Homo sapiens: one gene and its partners. The protein of the gene in region 1 purifies or fractionates together with the protein of each later gene. This does not show direct contact. Each region holds a gene or a part of one and is shown in the gene's direction. Other genes may lie near its edges.

The links. The genes of interacting proteins can lie anywhere in the genome.
Region 2: the proteins of MARVELD2 (region 1) and SPPL2A fractionate together in Homo sapiens (co-fractionation; one large-scale study listed by BioGRID). This does not show direct contact.
Region 3: the proteins of MARVELD2 (region 1) and ECSIT purify together in Homo sapiens (affinity purification with mass spectrometry; 2 studies listed by BioGRID and IntAct, with this or other methods). This does not show direct contact.
Region 4: the proteins of MARVELD2 (region 1) and NDUFAF1 purify together in Homo sapiens (affinity purification with mass spectrometry; 2 studies listed by BioGRID and IntAct, with this or other methods). This does not show direct contact.

The regions. Positions count from the first base shown.
Region 1 is NC_000005.10:69,434,667-69,439,560, forward strand, and holds part of MARVELD2 (MARVEL domain-containing protein 2), read left to right. Parts: intron 1-4,894. UniProt on the Homo sapiens protein: Plays a role in the formation of tricellular tight junctions and of epithelial barriers.
Region 2 is NC_000015.10:50,733,958-50,738,851, reverse strand, and holds part of SPPL2A (signal peptide peptidase-like 2A isoform 1 precursor), read left to right. Parts: intron 1-2,111; coding exon 2,112-2,208; intron 2,209-2,649; coding exon 2,650-2,751; intron 2,752-4,894. UniProt on the Homo sapiens protein: Intramembrane-cleaving aspartic protease (I-CLiP) that cleaves type II membrane signal peptides in the hydrophobic plane of the membrane. Functions in FASLG, ITM2B and TNF processing.
Region 3 is NC_000019.10:11,514,886-11,519,779, reverse strand, and holds part of ECSIT (evolutionarily conserved signaling intermediate in Toll pathway, mitochondrial isoform 1 precursor), read left to right. Parts: intron 1-586; 5' UTR 587-609; coding exon 610-705; intron 706-4,894.
Region 4 is NC_000015.10:41,391,748-41,396,641, reverse strand, and holds part of NDUFAF1 (complex I intermediate-associated protein 30, mitochondrial precursor), read left to right. Parts: coding exon 1-155; intron 156-1,597; coding exon 1,598-1,783; intron 1,784-2,283; exon of another isoform or gene 2,284-2,537; intron 2,538-4,894. UniProt on the Homo sapiens protein: As part of the MCIA complex, involved in the assembly of the mitochondrial complex I.

The DNA.
Region 1 (4,894 bases):
CTTATAACCTGTGCCATTTTTTAATTTTTATTTTATTTTATTTTTTTGAGATGGAGTTTTGCTCTTGTTGCCCAGGCTGGAGTGCCATGGCGCGATCTCGGCTCACTGCAACCTCTGCCTCCCGGGTTGAAGCGATTCTCCCACCTCGGCCTCCCAAGTAGCTGGGATTCAGGCATGCGCCACCATGCCCAGCTAATTTTGTATTTTTAGTAGAGACGGGGTTTCACCATGGTGGTTAGGCTGGTCTCAAACTCCTGACCTTATGATCCACCCGCCTTAGCCTCCCAAAGTGCTGGGATTACAGGCGTGAGCCACCGTGCCTGGCCACCTGTGCCATTTTTTAATCAGATGTACTCTTTTTTTTTTTTTTTTTTGAGATGGAGTCTTGCTCTGTCACCCAGACGGGAGTGCAGTGGTGCAATCTCGGCTCACTGCAACCTTTGCCTCCCAGGTTACGCGATTCTCCTGCCTCAGCTTCCTGAGTAGATGGGACTATAGGTGCACACCCGGCTAATTTTTGTATTTTTAGTAGAGGCAGGGTTTCCCCATTTAGGCCAGGCTGGTCTCGAACTCCTGACCTCAGGTGATCCACCTACCTCAGCCTCCCAAAGTGCTGGTATTACAGGCATGAGCCACTGCATCCGGCCCAGATGTACTCTTTTTAATTGAGATCTCATTCACATATAATAAACCCACCCTTTTAAAGTGTACAATTCAGTGAATTTTAGTATAGTTACAGAGTTTTGCAATCAGCACCACTCAAATTCCACAACAGTTTTATCACCCCAAAAAGAAACCCTATATTGGCTGGGTGTGGTGGCTCATGCCTGTAATCTCAGCAGTTTGGGATGCTGAGGCAGGCAGATCACTTGAGGTCAGGAATTCGAGACCAGCCTGGCCAACATGGTGAAATGCTGTCTCTACTAAAAGTACAAAAATTAGTTGGGCATGTTGGCAGGCTGAGTAATCTCAGCTACTTGGGAGGCTGAGGCAGGAGAATCACTTGAACCCAGGAGGTGGAGGTTGCAGTGGGCCAAGATTGCGCCACTGCACTCCAGCCTGGGCAACAGAGTGAGACCCTGTCTCAAAAAAAAAAAAAAAAAAAAAAAAAATGAAACCCTTTACGAATTAGCAGTTATTTCCCATTCTCAGCTCTGTCCAACCATTGACAACCACTAATCTACTTTCTGTCCGAATGGATTTGCCTAGTTTGAACATTTCATATCAATCTTTTGTGTCTGGCTTCTTCATTTTGCATAATGTTTTCAAGGTTCATCCATATTTTAGCATAAGTCAATACATATTCCTTTTTGTGGTGGAATAATATTCTGCTATATGGATATACCACATTTTGTTTATCCATTTATCAAGAGATAGACATTTGGTCATTTCCAAATGTCTATATAGTCATTTCCACTCATTGGCTGTTACGAATAATGCTGGTATAAATATTTGTGTAATATTCTGTCTTTTTAAAAGAGGCTGTATTAATCTATTACATGTATGATTAAATTTTAAAAACACAGCTTTGTAAAAACTAAATGTCGGTCTGGCTGTGGTGGCACATGCCTGCAGTCCCAGCTACTTGGGAGGCTGAGGCAGGCAAGTCGTGTGAACCCGGGAGGCGGAGGTTGCAGTGAGCCAAGATCATGCCACTGCACTCCAGCCTGGGCGACAGAGCCAAAAAAAACCAAAAAACAAACAAAAAAAACTAAATGTCAAATTTATGTATGGGAACACACACACACACACACACACACACACACACACACACACACACACACACATATATATAAATTTTTTACCTGAGAAGTTAGGTGTCTTTGTTTCAATCACAGACTCTTTGTTAAGTGTGCATTTAAATCACTTATCGTTATGAGTTAACTAAGCCAAATGTGTATTACAGTAACATTTTCCTAATCCTGGAGCAATGGAATGGTGTTGGCTAAGAGACGCCAGTACCAGGAAGCAAGAGAAATTCAGCAAATATTGAGGTTGAATGTCAGTACCATTTGGAAAATAAGCAAGGCCCACAGGTCTAAGAAGGGTGACCTAGTCTCTCAGAGGCCGTCAAAGGAGTGCAGGAAGGCATGAGGCCCCAGGAATCTGGATCAGCACAGGCTGGGAAATGCAGGCTTGTTGGGAGAAATAATGAAGAAAATCCTGACCTGTAAGGCCGGGTGTGGTGGCTCACACCTGTAATCCTAGCAGTTTGGGAGGCTGAGGCGGGCAGATCACCTGAGGTTGGGAGTTCCAGACCAGCCTGACCAACATGGAGAAACCCCATCTCGGCCAGGCACAGTGGCTCATGCCTGTAATCCCAGCACTTTGGGAGGCCAAGGTGAAACCGCGTCTCTACTAAAAATACAAAAATTAGCCAGGCATGGTGGTGTGTGCCTGTAATTCCAGCTACTCAGGAGGCAGAGACAAGAGAATTGCTTGAACCCGGGAGTCGGAGGTTGCAGTGAGCTGAGATCGTGCCACTACACTCCAGCCTGGGCGACAGAGCAAGACTTCATCTCAAAAAAAAAAAAAAAAGAAACCATCCCAACTAAAAATACAAAATTAGCCGCACGTGGTGGTGCATGTGTGTAATCCCAGCTACTCGGGAAGTCTGAGGCAGGAGAATCGCTTGACCCAGGAGGCGGAGGCTCTGGTGTGCCAAGATCGCGCCATTGCACTCCAGCCTGGGCAACAAGAGCGAAACTCTGTCTTAAAAAAAAAAAAAAAAAAAAAAGCTGGGTGCGGTGGCTCACACCTGTAATCCCAGCACTTTGGGAGGCCGAGGCAGGCGGATCATGAGGTCAGGAGATCGAGACCAGCCTGGCCAGCATAGTGAAACCCCGTCCCTACTAAAAATACAAAAAATTAGCCGAGCATGGTGGTGGGCGCCTGTAATCCTTGCTACTCGGGAGGCTGAGGCAGGAGAATGGCTTGAACCTGGGAGGCGGAGGTTGCAGTGAGACGAGATTGTGCCATTGCACTCCAGCCTGGGTGACAGAGTGAGACTCTGTCTCAAAAAAAAAAAACAAAGAAAATCTTGACCTTGACCTGTAATCTTTGAGCCAACACCCAGTGGTATCTGGTTTGTGTGCTTTGTATGAATGGACAAGGGCTGCAGCACATGGTCTGCAGTTGGGAAATCAAGAGGGTCCTGATGACAGTACAGGTTGAGAGACCAAGTCTTCCCATGATGTTTCCACACAATATCAACAACAGCCATTACCTGTGATTTTTAACAAGACAGGGCTTGTAAGTAACCCAATGGCAGGCCCACGGTTATTATTATCAGTGTATCCTCCAGTCCTTATCTAAAGTAGAAATATTAACCATATTACAAAAGTTAGCTTCTCCTTGGCCACAGGCTGAGCTTTGTCCTGGGCAGGAGTCCACAGGCTCATTCGTTTTCCCACCATGTCCCCATGGAAGCATGTGAGGCATTTCAAAGCCCAGTGGGCCTGTTTGGAGGCAGGTTCTCCCACAGACATGGTTGTGCACCACTGAAAAATAGTCACATGACTTTTCTGAGCCCATAAAGTAGAAATATTGCCCCAAACAATCCCTCTGGTCCTCACCACTCCTTAAATTCAGTGACAGACTCTAGATGGATGTTACAGCTCATCTCTGCCTGCATCTCCAGCACAGCAGTGCTAACCCCAATAGCAAGTTTATTCCTTGTCCAGGATCTGTTATTACAGATTACAATTAAATCACCAGGTTTATCTTCACTGCTGGCAAGCATTCAAAACACAAACATACTCATGATCTCAGTATGTAAAAGAGATTGAAGAATTAAAATAGTTCAGGCAAGGGGGCTCATGGCTGTAATCCCCACACTTTGAGAGACAAGGCAGGAAGAGTGCTCAAAGCCAGGAGTTCAAGATGAGCTTGGGCAACATAGCAAGACTGCATCTACACACAAAAAAGTAAAAGTTAGCGGCCGGTCATGGTGGCTCACACCTGTAACCCCAGCACTTTGGGAGGCCGAGGTGGGTGAATCACAAGGTCAGGAGTTCGAGACCAGCCAGGCCAACATGGTGAAACCCCATCTCTACTGAAAATACAAAAAATTAGCTGGGCGTAGTGGCAGGTGCCTGTAATCCCAGCTACTCGGGAGGCTGAGGCAGGAGAATCACTTGAACCTAGGAGGCGAAGGTTGCAGTGAGCCGAGATCGCACCACTGCACTCCAGCCTGGGTGACAGAATTGAGACTCCATCTCAAAAATAAAAAAAAATAAATATAAATAAAAATTAGCCAGGCCTGGTGATGTGCCGTATAATCCCAGCTACTTGGGAGGCTGAGACAGGAGGATCACTTGAGCCCAAGAAGTTTTGGTTACAGTGAGCTATTACACCACTGCCTTCCAGCTTGGGCAACAGAGCAAGACCCTGTCTCAAAAAAAAAAAAAAAAAAAGAAGAAGAAAATATACTGGGAAAAGGATATGGGTCAGTGATAGAAAAAGTTCTCAGGCCAAGCTTTTATTTTATTAGTTTTTTATTTATTTATTTATTTTTGAGACAGAGTCTCTGTTGCCCAGGCTGGAGTGCAGTGGCGTGATCTTGGCTCACTGCAACCTCCGCCTCCTGGGTTCAAGTGATTCTACTGTCTCAAACTCCTAAGTAGCTGAGATTACAGGTGCCCGCCACCATGCCTGGCTAATTTTTGTATTTTTAGTAGAGATGGGGTTTCGCCATGTTGGCCAGGCTGGTCTTGAACTCCTGATCTCAGGTGATCCACCCGCCTCAGCCTCCCAAAATGCTGGGATTACAGGTGTAGGGCAAGCTTTTAGAACTATAAATTACTGGCTGGGCACAGTGGCTCATGCGTGTAATCCCAGTACTTTGGGAGGCCAAGGTGGGTGGATCACTTGAGGCCAGGAGTTCGAGACCAGC
Region 2 (4,894 bases), on another chromosome or scaffold:
TAGAAAGTAACTAGTTCTTTTTTTCCTTGAAGAAAGTGGGAGCAGGAACTATAATGGCTTGTCCATCTCCTGAACAGTCTTATTAATGGCTTAATAGAATGGAAATTTGCCATCCCTGGACAGTATACAGCACAAAGAGAAGGGAGACCAGGGTAAAAGGAGTGTACCTGATAAGAACTAGCAAAAAGCCCTTTTAAGAACCACCAAAGGCTACCATGCTTATGTGTATAGCATTAGCATAAATTTCTGGACTAGAAAACTAGGGCCTAGGATTTGTTTCATTCAGCTTTTTTTTTTTTTTTGGAAACAGAGTCTTGCTCTGTCGCCCAGGCTGGAGTGCAGTGGCGCAGTCTTGGCTCACTGCAACCTCCACCTCCCAGGTTCAAGTGAGTCTCCTGCCTCAGTCTCCTGAGTAGCTGGGATTACAGGTGTGCGCCACTGTGCCCGACTAATTTTTGTATTGTTAGTACAGACGGGATTTCACTATGTTGACCAGGCTGGTCTCGAACTCCTGACCTCAAGTGATCCACCTGCCTTGGCCTCCCAAAGTGCTAGGATTACAGGCGTGAGTTACCGCACCCAGCCTCATTCAGTTTTTGTTCAGTTTCTCTTGTCCTGTGACAGCAGTTTAAAAACTAGACCTATGATATCTTTTTTTTTGAGACAGTCTTGCTCTGCTCTGCTCTGTCACCCAGGCTGGAGTGCAGTGGCACAATCTGGGTTCACTGCAACCTCTGCCTCTCGCATTCAAGCGATTCTCCTGCCTCAGCCTCCCAAGTAGCTGGGACTACAGGCACATCCCACCATGCCCAGCTAATATTTGTACTTTTATTATTTGTATTTATTTATTTATTTGAGATGGAGCGATTCTCTTGCCTCAGCTTCCCAAGTAGTTGGGATTACAGGCATCTGGCACCACCCCCAGCTAATTTTTGTATTTTTAGTAGAAACAGGGTTTCACCATGTTGGCCAGGCTGATCTCAAAGTCTTGACCTCAGGAGATCCACCTGCCTCGGCCTCCTATAGTGTTGGGATTACAGGTGTGAGCCACTGTACCCAGCTTATGACATGTATTTTTTAATTAAAATTAAGTCATTCTGGCCAGATGCGGTGGCTCTCGCCTGTAATCCCAGCACTTTGGGAGGCCAAAGTAAGTGGATCACTTGAGGTCAGGGGTTCAAGAGCAGCCTGGCCAACATAGTGAAACCCTGTCTCTACTAAAAATACAAAAATTAGCTGGGCATGGTGGTGCGTGCCCGTAGTTCCAGCTCCTCAAGGGGCTGAGGCAGGAGAGTCGCTTAAGCCTGGGAGGCGGAGGTTGCGGTGAGCCAAGATTGCCCCATTGCACTCCAGCCTGGGTGACACAGTGAGACTCCATCTCAAAAAAAAAACTCATTTTGTTAATATCACTCATTTTAAACTGTTGTTGAGAGAGCGAGTACTAAAATGATATTTGTATTATGTTGGCATCAAACAGGTGATTTTATTAATTTAATACTCCTTCAGATTAATTTCTGTTATCAACTCTTAGTTTATAGTAGTCATTGATAGAAAAAAGAGAGCCCTCTACTTTACCTGAAAGCATATTTTAGTTTTTGGTAAGAGATTTCCTTAAATTCATCGCTATTTAAAAAGAAGACAGCTGGGTGCAGTGGCTCACTGCTGTAATCCCAGCACTTTTGGAGGCCAAGGCAGGCATATCACCTGAGGTCGGGACTTTGAGACCAGCCTGGCCAACATGACAAAACCCCGTCTACTAAAACTACAAAAATTGGCTGGGTATGGTGGCGCATGCCTGTAATCCCAGCTATTCAGGAGGCTAAGGCATGAGAATCACTTGAGCCCAGGAGGTAAAGATTGCAGTGAGAGCCGAGATTACACCACTGCATTCCAGCCTGGGCGACTGGGCGACAGAGTGAGACTCTCAGAAAAAAAAACAAAAAACCTCACGATCTAAATTTCAGCTTAGTAAGTAATTCAGGTCATCGTATAGTCACTTCATTGGAAGTATGATTCAATAAAGAAAGTAAAGAATTAATATTGCTTGTATAAATATTTTCTTATCACCTTTCCTTCTGTTCTCATGTAATTTAGTGTTTTGTTTTTTTCAGTTTATGTTATGATAGCAATTTTCTGCATAGCATCAGCAATGAGTCTGTACAACTGTCTTGCTGCACTAATTCATAAGATACCATATGGACAATGCACGTACGTATCTCTTACAGGAAATCTTATAATGTTGGTGTTTATAATTTGAAACAATACAAAAGTAGGAGTATTATTTGAAACCTATATAGTCCAATATACATTGGACCTACAGGTGTTTAAATTTAAATTTAAGTAAAATTAAATAAAATTAAAAATTGAGTTTTTCATTCTTATTAGCCACATTTCAAGTGCTCAATAGCCACATATGACTAGTAGCTACTATATTGGACAGCACAGATATAGTACATTATTCATCATCACAGAAAATTATATTGGACTGATAAACATTTTATTACGTCTCATTTGTTTTACTTAAAATCAAGACTTTCAAAATTGATATTTCAGTCACTTCTTATGACTGTGGTTAATATTTGCTACTTCTTATATCAAGTGAACATTGTACTTCATCTGCAGTGTTAACTATTTTAATCTGTTTTTTAGGATTGCATGTCGTGGCAAAAACATGGAAGTGAGACTTATTTTTCTCTCTGGACTGTGCATAGCAGTAGCTGTTGTTTGGGCTGTGTTTCGAAATGAAGACAGGTATGAATACTCAATGTATTTGCTTTTAGATTAAGGATGAATTGTTTCCTATCTTGCCCTGATACTTATTATGATTATTATGGAATTTTTTTGCTTCTATGCCAGAACACCAGTCTTGTAATGAACTACTTCTTAAATAAGCAGATCTTATGTTAATGCATTTGAACTCATATAGAGAAGGAAATATGAATTATGATTTTAACACATACACTGAAATAGACTTTAAAAATATACTTAATTTCACGCCTGTAATCCCAGCACTTTGGGAGGCCGAGGCAGGCGGATCACCTGAGGTCGGGAGTTTGAGACCAGCCTGACCAACATGGAGAAACCCCGTCTCTACTAAAAATACAAAAAATTAGCCAGGCGTGGTAGTGCATGCCTGTAATCCCAGCTACTCGGGAGGCTGAGGCAGGAGAATCGCTTGAACCCGGGAGGCGGAGGTTGCAGTGAGCGGAGGTTGCAGTGAGCCAAGATCGCGCCATTGCACTCCAGCCTGGGCAACAAGAGTGAAACTCTATCTCAAAAAAATATGTGTGTGTGTGTGTGTGTGTGTATGTATATATGTGTGTGTGTGTATATATGTATGTGTGTGTGTGTATATATACACACACTTAATTTTGGTATAGCCACACAGTTGAGTGCAGTGCAGCTCTAAACAATGAAGATCTCTATGAATTGATATGCAGGGAGTTCCAGGAGAGAGAGAAAGAGAGAGAGAGTGCAGAAACAATCAAAATGTCCATCAAACTTTGAATGGGTGAATACATTACGTTATATTTACACAATGGAATACTGTTCACCAATAAGTAAGCCATATACCACATGCAGAGGCGTGAATGAATCTCAAACGTAATGCCAAGTGAAAGTAGTCAGATACAAAAGAGAACATACTTGCCGGGCATGGTGGCTCATACCTGTAATCCCAGCACTTTTGGAGGCTTGAGGTGGGCAGATCACCTGTGGTCAGGAGTTCGAGACCACCCTGACCAACATGGAGAAGCCTCGTCTCTACTTAAAAATACAGAATTAGCCGGGCATGGTGGCATGCGCCTGTAATCCCAGCTACTCAGGAGGCTGAGGCAAGAGAATCACTTGAACCCAAGGCAGAGGTTGCAGTGAGCTGAGATCACACTATTGCACTCCAGCCTGGGGAATAAGAGTGCAACTCCGTCTCAAAAAAACAAAAAAAGAAAAGAGAGAGAGAGAATATACTCTATGATATATAAAGTACAAAAAGGAGCACAGTCTATACTTTTTAAAAAGTTTTATTTTTAATTATTATGGGAACATAATGACTATATATATTTACGGGATACATGTGGTGTTTTGATACAGGCATTCAATGTGAATGATCACATCAGAGTAATAGTGGTATCCATCACCTCAAGCCTTTGTCATTTCTTTGTGTTGGGAACATTCCAATTTCACTCTTTTAGTTATTTTTACAATATACAATAAGTTATTAACTGTATCACCTTATTGTGCTACCAAACACTAGATCTTATTTATTTTATTTAGCTATATTTTTGCACCCATTAACCATCTTCACTTTATCACCCCCACTCTCTACCTTTTTTTAGCCTCTGGTAACCATCATTCTACTATCTCCATGAGTTCCATTTTTTATTTTTATTTTCTTAATTTTAGCTCCCACGATGAGTGAGAACATGCAATATTTGTCTTTCCGTGCTTGGCTTATTTCACTTAACATGATGTCTTCAGTTCCATCCATGTCTTTGCAAATGACAAGACTTCATTATTTTTTATGGCTGAATAATATTCCATTGTGTGTATTTGTAAAATTATATATATATGAGTGTGTATAATATTTCCTTTATCCACTGGTGGACACTTAGGTTGATTCCATATCTTGGCTATGGCGAATAGTGCTGCAATAAACATGAGAGTTCAGGTATCTCTTTGATATACTGAGTTCCTTTCTTTTGCATGTATATCCAATGGCGGGATTGCTGGATCATATGGTAATTCTGTTTTTAGTTTTTTTGAGGAATTTCCATACTGTTCTTCATAGTGGCTGTGGTAATTTACATTCCCACCAACAGTGTACAAGGTTTCCCCTTTTCCCACATCCTTGCCAGCATTCTGGGATGAGATGATATCTCATTGTAGTTTTGATTTA
Region 3 (4,894 bases), on another chromosome or scaffold:
GTCAGGCTGGTCTCGAACTCCCAACTTCGAGTGATCCGCCCGCCTCAGCCTCCCAGAATGTTGTGATTACAGGCGTGAGCCACCGCGCCTGGCCAGGTACAGGGATTCTTGTTGGAGTGACACAGATTTTGTAAAATTAGATTGTAGTGGCTAGGAGTGCTGGCTCACACCCATGATCCCAGCACTTTTGGAGACAGAGATGGGAGGATCACTTGAAGCCAACAGTTCGAGACCAGCCTGGGCAACACAGCAAGACCCTGGGTCTCTGCAAACTATTTTCAAATTAGCTGGGCATGGTGGCACGCGTCTGTAGTCCCAGCTTCTCGACGCTCTGGGGCTGGAGGATCACTTGGGCCCAGAAGTTGGAGGCTGCATTGAGCTATGATCACGCCCCTGGGGCAGCAGGATTAGGGTGCTGTCCCAAGAACAAAGTCTTTGAGTCATCAGCCTGTTTCTTGGGTAAGGTAAACATTGGGGCTGGTGAGTGAGCCACATAATCTGGAGTGTGCCCTCGACCCTGCGGGGCCCTTGCGTCTGTTAGCATCTGTAAGGTGCCAGGCTAATGCTGAATCTTCTTTTGGGCCAGGTGATTGTCTGACAAGCAGAGGCATGAGCTGGGTCCAGGCCACCCTACTGGCCCGAGGCCTCTGTAGGGCCTGGGGAGGCACCTGCGGGGCCGCCCTCACAGGAACCTCCATCTCTCAGGTAAGCACCAGCCAGGCAGTCTTTTGGGTAGAGGGAGGTAAGCTTGGGATTTGCTCCCAACTCCTTCAGAATCCACTCTGTGAAGCCAGTTCTGGTGAGTCTGGGCTGGCCTATCAGTGCCGAGGTCCCATTAAAAGTCCTTAGTTTATGTATGTATGTATGTTTATGTGTTTGTTTTTTGAGACAGTGTCTCTGTCACCAAGGCTGGAGTGCAGTAGTGTGATTACAGCTCACTGTAGTCTTGACCTCCCAGGTTCAAGCAATCCTCCCGCCTCATCCTCCCAAGTACCCAGGACTACAGGCACATACTACCACACCCGGCTAGTTTTTGTATTTTTTTTGTAGAGACGGGGTTTCACCATGTTGGGCAGGCTGGTCTTGAACTCTGGGCTCAAGTGATCCACCTGCGTCAGCCTCCCAAAGTGCTGGGATTACAGGCGTGAGCCACCGCGCCTGGCCAAAAGTCCATAATTTATTTATTTTTTTGAAACAAGGTCTTGCTCTATCACCCAGGCTGGAGTACAGTGGTGGAATCAGGGCTCACTGCAGCCTCAAACTCCTGGGCTCAAATGAGCCTCCCACCTCAGCCCCCTGAGTAGCTGGGATCACTGATTTGAGCCACCATGCCCAGCTAATTTTTTTTTTTTTAGATGGAATTTTGCTCTTGTCGCCAAAGCTGGAGTGCAGTGGCGTGGTCTTGGCTCACTGCAACCTCTGCCTCCTGGGTTCAAGTGATTCTCCTGCCTCAGCCTGCCGAGTAGCTGTGATTACAAGTGCACATCACCACGCCCAGCTAATTTTTGTAATTTTAGTAGAGACGCGGTTTTGCCATGTTGGCGAGGCTGGTCTCAAACTCCTGACCTCAGGTGATTCACCCGCCTCGGCCTCCCAGAGTGCTGGGATTACAGGCATAAGCCACCGCACCCGGCCGCTAATTTTTTTTTTTTTTAAGTATATGGTCTTGTTGTGTTGCCCAGACTGGTCTTGAACCTCTGGGCCCTCAGTCCTTCCACTTTGGCCTCCCAAAGTGCTAGGATTACAAGTGTGAGCCACTGTGCCTGGACCCTAATTTAAGAGATGCTAGTGCCTACGTGGGTGAGGGGATTGACTTTGAAAATAAGGATGTATGAGCTCGGTGGATTTGTGTGGTGACTGTGAGCAGCTCCTCCTGCATCTACTTGTGAAGATGGGGCAGAAAACTGAATTTCTTTCCTATACCCATAGTGACCAGATGGCGAAAGCAGATTGACAGCCATAGATAGCAATAACGATGATGGTGGGAATATTAATAGTTCCCATATTGAGCACTTACTCTGTGCCCGGCCCCGCACTATGCATTTCATTTACATTACCTCCTTTGCAGTGTTTCCCCCTCGTTAGGCATTTTAGAGCTTCCTTTCTGATTTTTACCCCAAAGTGGTACAATACTACACCACCTATATTATTAATTGACTGAAATTTCAGTTGTTTTTTGTTTTTGAGATGGAGTCTCCCTCTGTCACCCAGGCTGGAGTGCAGTGGCGTGATCTCAGCTCATTGCAACCTCTGCCTCCCGGGTTCAAGTGATTTTCCTGCCTCAGCCTCCTGAGTAGCTGGGATTACAGGTGTGCGGCACCACACCTGGCTAATTTTTGCATTTTTGGTAGAGATGGGGTTTCACCATGTTGGCCAGGCTGGTCTCAAACTCCTGACCTCAAGTGATCCACCCGCCTCTCAAAAGTGCTGGGATTACAGGCACGAGCCACTGCGCCCAACCTGAAATTTTACTGTAAATGAATGCCTTTTTTTTTTTTTAACATTGCCTTATCAAAGAACGATATGGGATGGCTGTGGGGACCGCAGAGTAGGGGGACTGAGGGCACTGACTCCATTCTCAGCTCTGATGCTTTGCAGCTGTGTAACACTGTGCATCCCACTTCATCTTCCTGAGCCTTGGTTTTTCTCATCTGTAAAATGAGTGCAGTAAGAGTACCCCCCACCTAGGGCCTCACATTTGTAAAGTGCTCAACTGTGTCTACAGTGGAAGAATATTTGGTAAATATTGTCTCTTTCTTTTGAGATAGGGTCTCGCTCTGTTGCCCATGCTGGAGTGTAGTGGCGTGATCTTGGCTCACTGCAACCTCGACCCGCCAGTCTCAATTGATCTGCCTACTTCAGCCTCCTGAGTAGCTGGGACTACATACATTCACCACCATGCCTGGCTAATTTTTGTATTTTTTTGTAGACATGAGGTTTCAGCAGGTTGCCCAGGCTGGTCTCAAACTCCTGACCTCAGGTGATCTGCCCGCCTCAGCCTCCCAAAGTGCTAGGATTACAGGTGTGAGCCACCGAGCCTGGACTAATATTGGCTCTTACTTGTTAGCGTTTTGTGTGTGTGTGTGTGTGTGTGTAGATAAACACACACACATTCATTTATTTTTTAGAGATAAGGTTTTACTCTCTCGTTCAGGTTGGAGTGCAGTGACACAATCATAGCTCACTGCAGCCTGGGATTCCTGGGCTTAAGCAGTCCTCCTGCTTCAGCCTCCTGAGTAGCTGGGACTACAGGTATACACCACCACGCCCCGCTTATTTTTTTATTTTTTCATAGAGAGATGGAGTCTCACTATGTTGCCCAGGCTGCAATGCGGTGGTGCAATCAAAGCACAGTACAACCTTGATAACTAGCTGTATATTTTTAAGATGCCTTATATGTAACCCTTCTAATTTAAAAATTCAATTTAAAATAAGAAATTTGTTACTGTGTCATCTAGAACCAGAATTTGGCTACTCTGGAGGCTGAGGTGGGAGGATCACTTGAGCCCAGGAGTTCTGGGCTGTTGTGCACTATGCTGATGGAGTGTCCTGCACTAAGTTTTGCTTAATATTGTGACCTCCTGGGACTTGGGGGACCACCAGGTTGCCTAAGGAAGTGTGAACTGACCCAGGTTGGAAACAGCAGGTCAAAACTCCTGTGCTGACCAGTTGGCTCATGCCTGTGAATAGCCACTGCACTCCCGCCTGGGCAACATAGCTAGACTCCATCTCTTAAAGGGTCCCAGCACTTTGGGAGGCCACGGTGGGTGGATCACCTTAGGTCAGGAATTCGAGACCATCCTGGCCAACATGGTGAAACCCCGTCTCTACTAAAAACACAAAAATTAGGCCGGGCATGGTGGCTCACATCTGTAATCCCAGCACTTTGGGAGGCCGAGGTGGGCGGATCACAAGGTCAGGAGTTCAAGACCAGCCTGGCCAACATGGTGAAACCCTGTCTCTACTAAAAATACAAAAGTTAACTGGGCATGGTGGCATGTGCCTGTAATCCCAGCTACTTGGGAGGCTGAGGCAGAAGAATTGCTTGAACCAGGGAGTCAGAGGTTATAGTGAGCTGAGATCGTGTGACTGCACTCCAGCCTGGCAACAGAGCGAGACTCCATCTCAGGAAAAACAAACAAACAAAACATAAAAATTAGCTGGGCATGGTGGCAGGCGCCTGTAATCCTAGCTACTTGGGAGGCTGAGGCAGGAGAATCGCTTGAACCCACAAGGCAGAGGTTGCAGTGAGCTGAGATGACACCATTGCATTCCAGCCTGGGCGACGAGTGAAACTCTGTCTCAAGAAAAAAAGAAAAAGAAAGAAGGGGCTGGGTACAGTGGCTCATGCCTGTAATCTCAAGACTTAAGGTGGCTACGCCGGGCGCGGTGGCTCATGCCTGTAATCCCAGCACTTGGGAGGCCAAGGCGGGCGGATCACGAGGTCAGGAGATCGAGACCATCCTGACTAACACAGTGAAACCCCGTCTCTACTAAAAATCCAAAAAATTAGCTGGGCGTGGTGGCAGGCGCCTGTAGTCCCAGCTACTCAGGAGGCTGAGGCAGGAGAATGGCGTGAACCCGGGAGGTGGAGCTTGCAATGAGCCGAGATCGCGCCACTGCACTCCAGCCTGGGTGACAAAGCGAGACTCTGTCTCAAAAAAAAAAAAAAAAAGACTTGGGGAGGCTGAGGCAGGTGGATCACTTGAGGCCTGGAGTTTGAGACCAGCCTGGCCAACATGATGAAACCCCATCTTTACTAAAAATACAAAAATTAGCAGGGCGTGGTGGAGCACGTCTGTAGTCCAGCTTACTTGGGAGGCTGAGGCATGAGAATCGCTTGAACATGGGAGGCAGAGGTTGCAGTGGGCTGAGGTCACGCCACTGCGCTGCA
Region 4 (4,894 bases), on another chromosome or scaffold:
CTGATAAGACGATTGGAGGCAGAAGTGAAGTGTTTTTGAAAATGGGCAAGAATAACCAAAGTGCACTGCTATATGGAACTCTGAGCTCTGAGGCGCCTCAGGACGGGGAGTCTACCCGAAGTGGGTACTGTGCAATGATATCCAGGATTCCAAGGGTAGGTGAGGCCCAGGAGCCATCGTTTTCTAGTAAACAGGGGTGAACTTCATTGTAGCATAAACTATAGAAGATAGCTTTTGTTTCTGTAAATGAAAACACCTGGCATGTTATATTTGGCACCTCACCTGTGTCTGGGGATAAGTAACTATTGGCACAAGTGTGAAGTGGAAGCACAAGGGGGAAGTGGTTTCTGAGGAGGAGGAGTTAACTTGTTTCTGCGCATTGCTTTGGGCCAGGAACGAGCATTGTTATGTTTCAGGAATCCTGAGAGGTTAGACATTTGAAAGATTTTTGGAGAGATTTTCATCTCCTCTAAAAAAGACCACAACCTCTGTAATGACCAGGGGTTTTGTAGAGTGGATGTAGGGTTAGCCTGTGGCTTTCTTTTTTTTTTTTTGAAACGGAGTCTTGCTCTGTCGCCCAGGCTAGAGTGCAGTGGCGTGATCTCGGCTCACTGCAACTTCCGCCCTCCAGGTTCAAGCGATTCTCCTGCCTCAGCCTCCTGAGTAGCTGGGACTACTGGTGCACACCACCACGCCCAGCTAATTTTTGTATTTTTAGTAGAGACAGGGTTTCACCATGTTGGCCAGGCTGGTCTTGAACTCCTGACCTCAGGTGATCCACCCCACCCTTGGCCTCCCAGAGTGCTGGACATGGTGGTGCATGCCTGTAATTCCAGGTACTTGGGAGGCTGAGGCAGGAGAATTGCTTGAACTCTGGAGGCAGAGGTTGCAGTGAGCTGAGATCGTGCCATTGCACTCCAGTCTGGGCAACAAGAGCGAAACTTTGTCTCAAAAAAAAAAAAAAAAAAAAAAGGCCGGGCGCAGTGGCTCATGCCTGTAATCCCCACACTTTGGGTGGCCAAGGTGGGCGGATCACCAGGTCAGGAGATCGAGACCATCCTGGCTAACACGGTGAAACCCCGTCTCTACTAAAAATACAAAAAAATTAGCCGGGTGTGGTTTTGGGCGCCTATAGTACCAGCTATTCGGGAGGCTGAGGCAGGAGAATGGTGTGAACCCAGGAGGCAGAGCTTGCAGTGAGCTGAGATTGCACCACTGCACTCCAGCCTGGGTGACAGAGCAAGACTCCGTCTCAAAAAAAAAAAAAGAAAAGAAAAGAAAAGAAAAGAAAAAGTCATTGCTCCATACGACCAGGTAAAGGAAATACATTCATTTCCATTCATTGAACACAGGTGAGTGCCTACCCCATGTAAACACTGTCCTGGGCCAGTTGTGTGTTGAACATTACCTTAGAAACATATAACTATGTCAGTATTTTGTGCTAAAATAATAATCACTGGGTTTATGTGCCTTCTTATGGGGCAGAAAGTCAGAAAAATGGTTAGTGCATCCTGTTGATGATGCTGACTTGGTGATGACTCACATTTTGCTAATAATGGAGAATGAGGTACAATGAACTTTACTTTCAATATCTTAGGGTGCTTTTGAGAGGAAGATGTCTTACGATTGGTCCCAGTTCAATACTCTGTATCTCCGTGTACGTGGGGATGGTCGGCCTTGGATGGTGAATATCAAGGAGGACACAGATTTCTTCCAGAGGACGAATCAGATGTATAGTTACTTCATGTTCACCCGCGGGGGACCCTACTGGCAGGAGGTCAAGGTAACAGCATAAATCTTCATTGTTTATAAAAATGAGGTCTTGGCTGGGTGAGGTGGCTCACGCCTATAATCCCAGCAATTTGGGAGGCCGAGGTGGGTGGATCACCTGAGGTCAGGAGTTCGAGACCAGGTTGGCCAACATGGTGAAACCTAGTCTCTGATCGTGCCATTGTACTCCAGCCTGGGCAACAGAGTGAGATGAGACTCTGTCTCAAAAAAAAAAAAAAAAAAAAAAAAAAGTCTTGGAGATGATTGTTACATTGTAGTTTCTTTTTTGTTACTAATCTTTCTTGGAAGGTGGGGGTGGGTGGGTAGAAGAAAGGTTAAGAGACATAAATGAATTTTGTTTCATTAATATAAATGTTAACATACTAACTAGTGAATATTTTTGATATGGATGTGGCCAGGTCCATGCTAAGTCACAGGCACATCTCTGCTCTGTGTCCAAATAGATGGGGTTTGTTTGTTTTTTAGAAGTTTCTGCCATTTCATGTCTTCCAGGCAACTCTGCTAAAGTTGGTGTCCTAGGCCTGCGTGGTGGCTCACACCTGTAATCCCAGCACTTTGGGAGGCCAAGGCGGACGGATCACTTGAGGTTGGGAGTTCGACACCAGCCTGACCAACATGGAGAAACCCTGTTGTCTCTACTAAAAAAAATACAAAATTAGCTGGGCGTGGTGGCGCATGCCTGTAATCCCAGCTACTCGGGAGGCTAAGGCAGGATAATTGCTTGAACCCAGGAGGCGGAGGTTTCGGTGAGCCGAGATCGTGTCATTGCACTCCAGCCTGGGCAACAAGAGCCAAACTTTGTCTCAAAAAAAAAAAAAAAAAAAAAAAAAAGTAGTGTCCTAGGCCAGGCGTGGTGGCTCATGTCTGTAATCCCAGCACTTTGGGAGGCCAAGGTGGGTAAATCACCTGAGATCAGGAGTTTGAGACCAGCCTGGCTAACATGGCAAAACCCCATCTCTACTAAAAATACAAGAATTAGAGGCCAGGCGCGGTGGCTCATGCCTGTAATCCCAGCACTTTGGGAGGCCGAGGTGGGCAGATCACGAGGTCAAGAGATCGAGACCATCCTGGCCAACATGGTGAAACTCTGTCTCTACTAAAAATAAAAAAATTAGTTGGGTGTGGTGGCGTCGTCCCAGCTACTCAGAAGGCTGAGGCAGGAGAATCGCTTGAACCTGGGAGGCAGAGGTGGCAGTGAGCCGAGATGGGCCACTGCTCTCCAGCCTGGCGACAGAGTGAGACTCCATCTCAAAAAAAAAAAGGCCGGCCGCGGTGGCTTACGCCTGTAATCCCAGCACTTTGGGAGGCTGAGGCGGGTGGATCACGAGGTCAGGAGATGATGGAGACCATTCTGGCTAACACAGTGAAACCCCGTCTCTACTAAAAAAATACAAAAAAAATTAGCCGGGCTTGGTGGCAGGTGCCTGTAGTCCCAGCTACTCAGGAGGCTGAGGCAGGAGAATGGCGTGAACCCGGGAGGCAGAGCTTGCAGATCGTGCCACTGCACTCCAGGCTGGGCGGGAGACTTCGTCTCAAAAAAAAAAAAAAAAAAAAAAAAATTAGCCGGGCATGGTGGTGTGTGCCTGTAATCCCAGCTACTAGGGGGGCTGAGGCAGGAGGATTGCTTGAACTTGGGAGGTGGAGGTTGCAGTAAGCTGAGACCGTGCCACTGCACTCCAGCCTGGGCAACAGAGCAAGACTCCGTCTCAAAAAAAAAAAAAAAAAAAAACTCAACAAGAAAGTCCCCATTTTGCTCATGTCATATACTTGAGGGTCATCCTGAATTCTTCTCCTTTGCCCCACATCCAGTCTATTAGCGAGTCCTGTCACCTCTGCTTCCAAAATACACTCAGCAGCTGACCATTTCTAGCCATCTCTTCTACTCCCACCCTGGTCCAGGTGTTTGGATTATTGCAGCAGCTTCATTATTGATTTCCCTGTTTGTCTTCTTGCCCCACTAAAATCCTGGCTCCACAGCAGCCAGAGTTATCTTTCTGAAGCATAGTTCAGATGACATCATTTACATGCTTGTAAGCATGTAAATGTACCTCCTAAGCATGTAAGCTGTATTAGTCTGTTCTCGTGCTGCTGCTATGAAGAAATACCTGAGACTAGGTAATTAATAAAGGAAAGAGGTTTAATTGACTCACAGTTCTGCAGGGCTGGGGAGGCCTTAGGTAACTTATAAAATCATGGCAGAAGGGGAAGTAAACACATCCTCCTTCACATGGTGGCAGGAAAGAGAATGAGAGCCGAATGAAGGGGTAATCTCCTTATAAAACCATCAGATCTTGTGAGAACTCACTGTCACTAGAACAGTATGGGGGAAACCACACCCATGGTTCAGTTAACTTCACCTGGTCCCTCCCTTGACACATGGGGATTACTACAATTCAAGATGAGATTTTGGGTGGGGAGACAGCCAAACCATATCAGGACCCTTCAGTGGTTTCCCATTACAATTCGAATAAAGTCCAGGCTGGGCTAGGTGGCTCATGCTTTTAATCCCAGCACTTTGGGAGGCTGAGATGGGCAGATCACTTGAGGTCAGGAGTTTGAGACCAGCCTGGTCTACATGGTGAAATCTTGTGTCTACTAAAAATACAAAAAATTAGCAGCAGGTGGTGGCACACGCCTGTAGTCCCAGCTCCTCAGGAGGCTGAGGCAGGAGAATCGCTTGAACCTGAGAAGTGGAAGTTGCAGTGAGCCAAGATCGCGCCACTGTACTCCACCCTGGGTGACAGAGTAAGACTCCATCTCAAGAAAAAAAAAAAAAAAAAAAAAGAATAAAGTCCAAACTCCTGCACATGGCCTATGGGCCTACAATATCGGACCCCTGTCTTCATCTTCCATCTCTCCTCCTGTCTTCATCTTCCATCTCTCCTCCTACCTCCTTCCTCCACACCAGCCCCTTTTCTGTCAGATTTAACAACCTCATTTCCATCTCAGAGCTTTGCACTTAGTGTTGCTCTGCTGTAATGCTCTGCCCCCATGTCTTCACCTGCTTTCTCTTTCCTGTCATTCACCTCTCGGCTCAAAAGTTGCCTCAGAGAGGCCTTTCCTGATTCCTGTAACTAAAGTTGGACCCTCTAATCCAGTTATT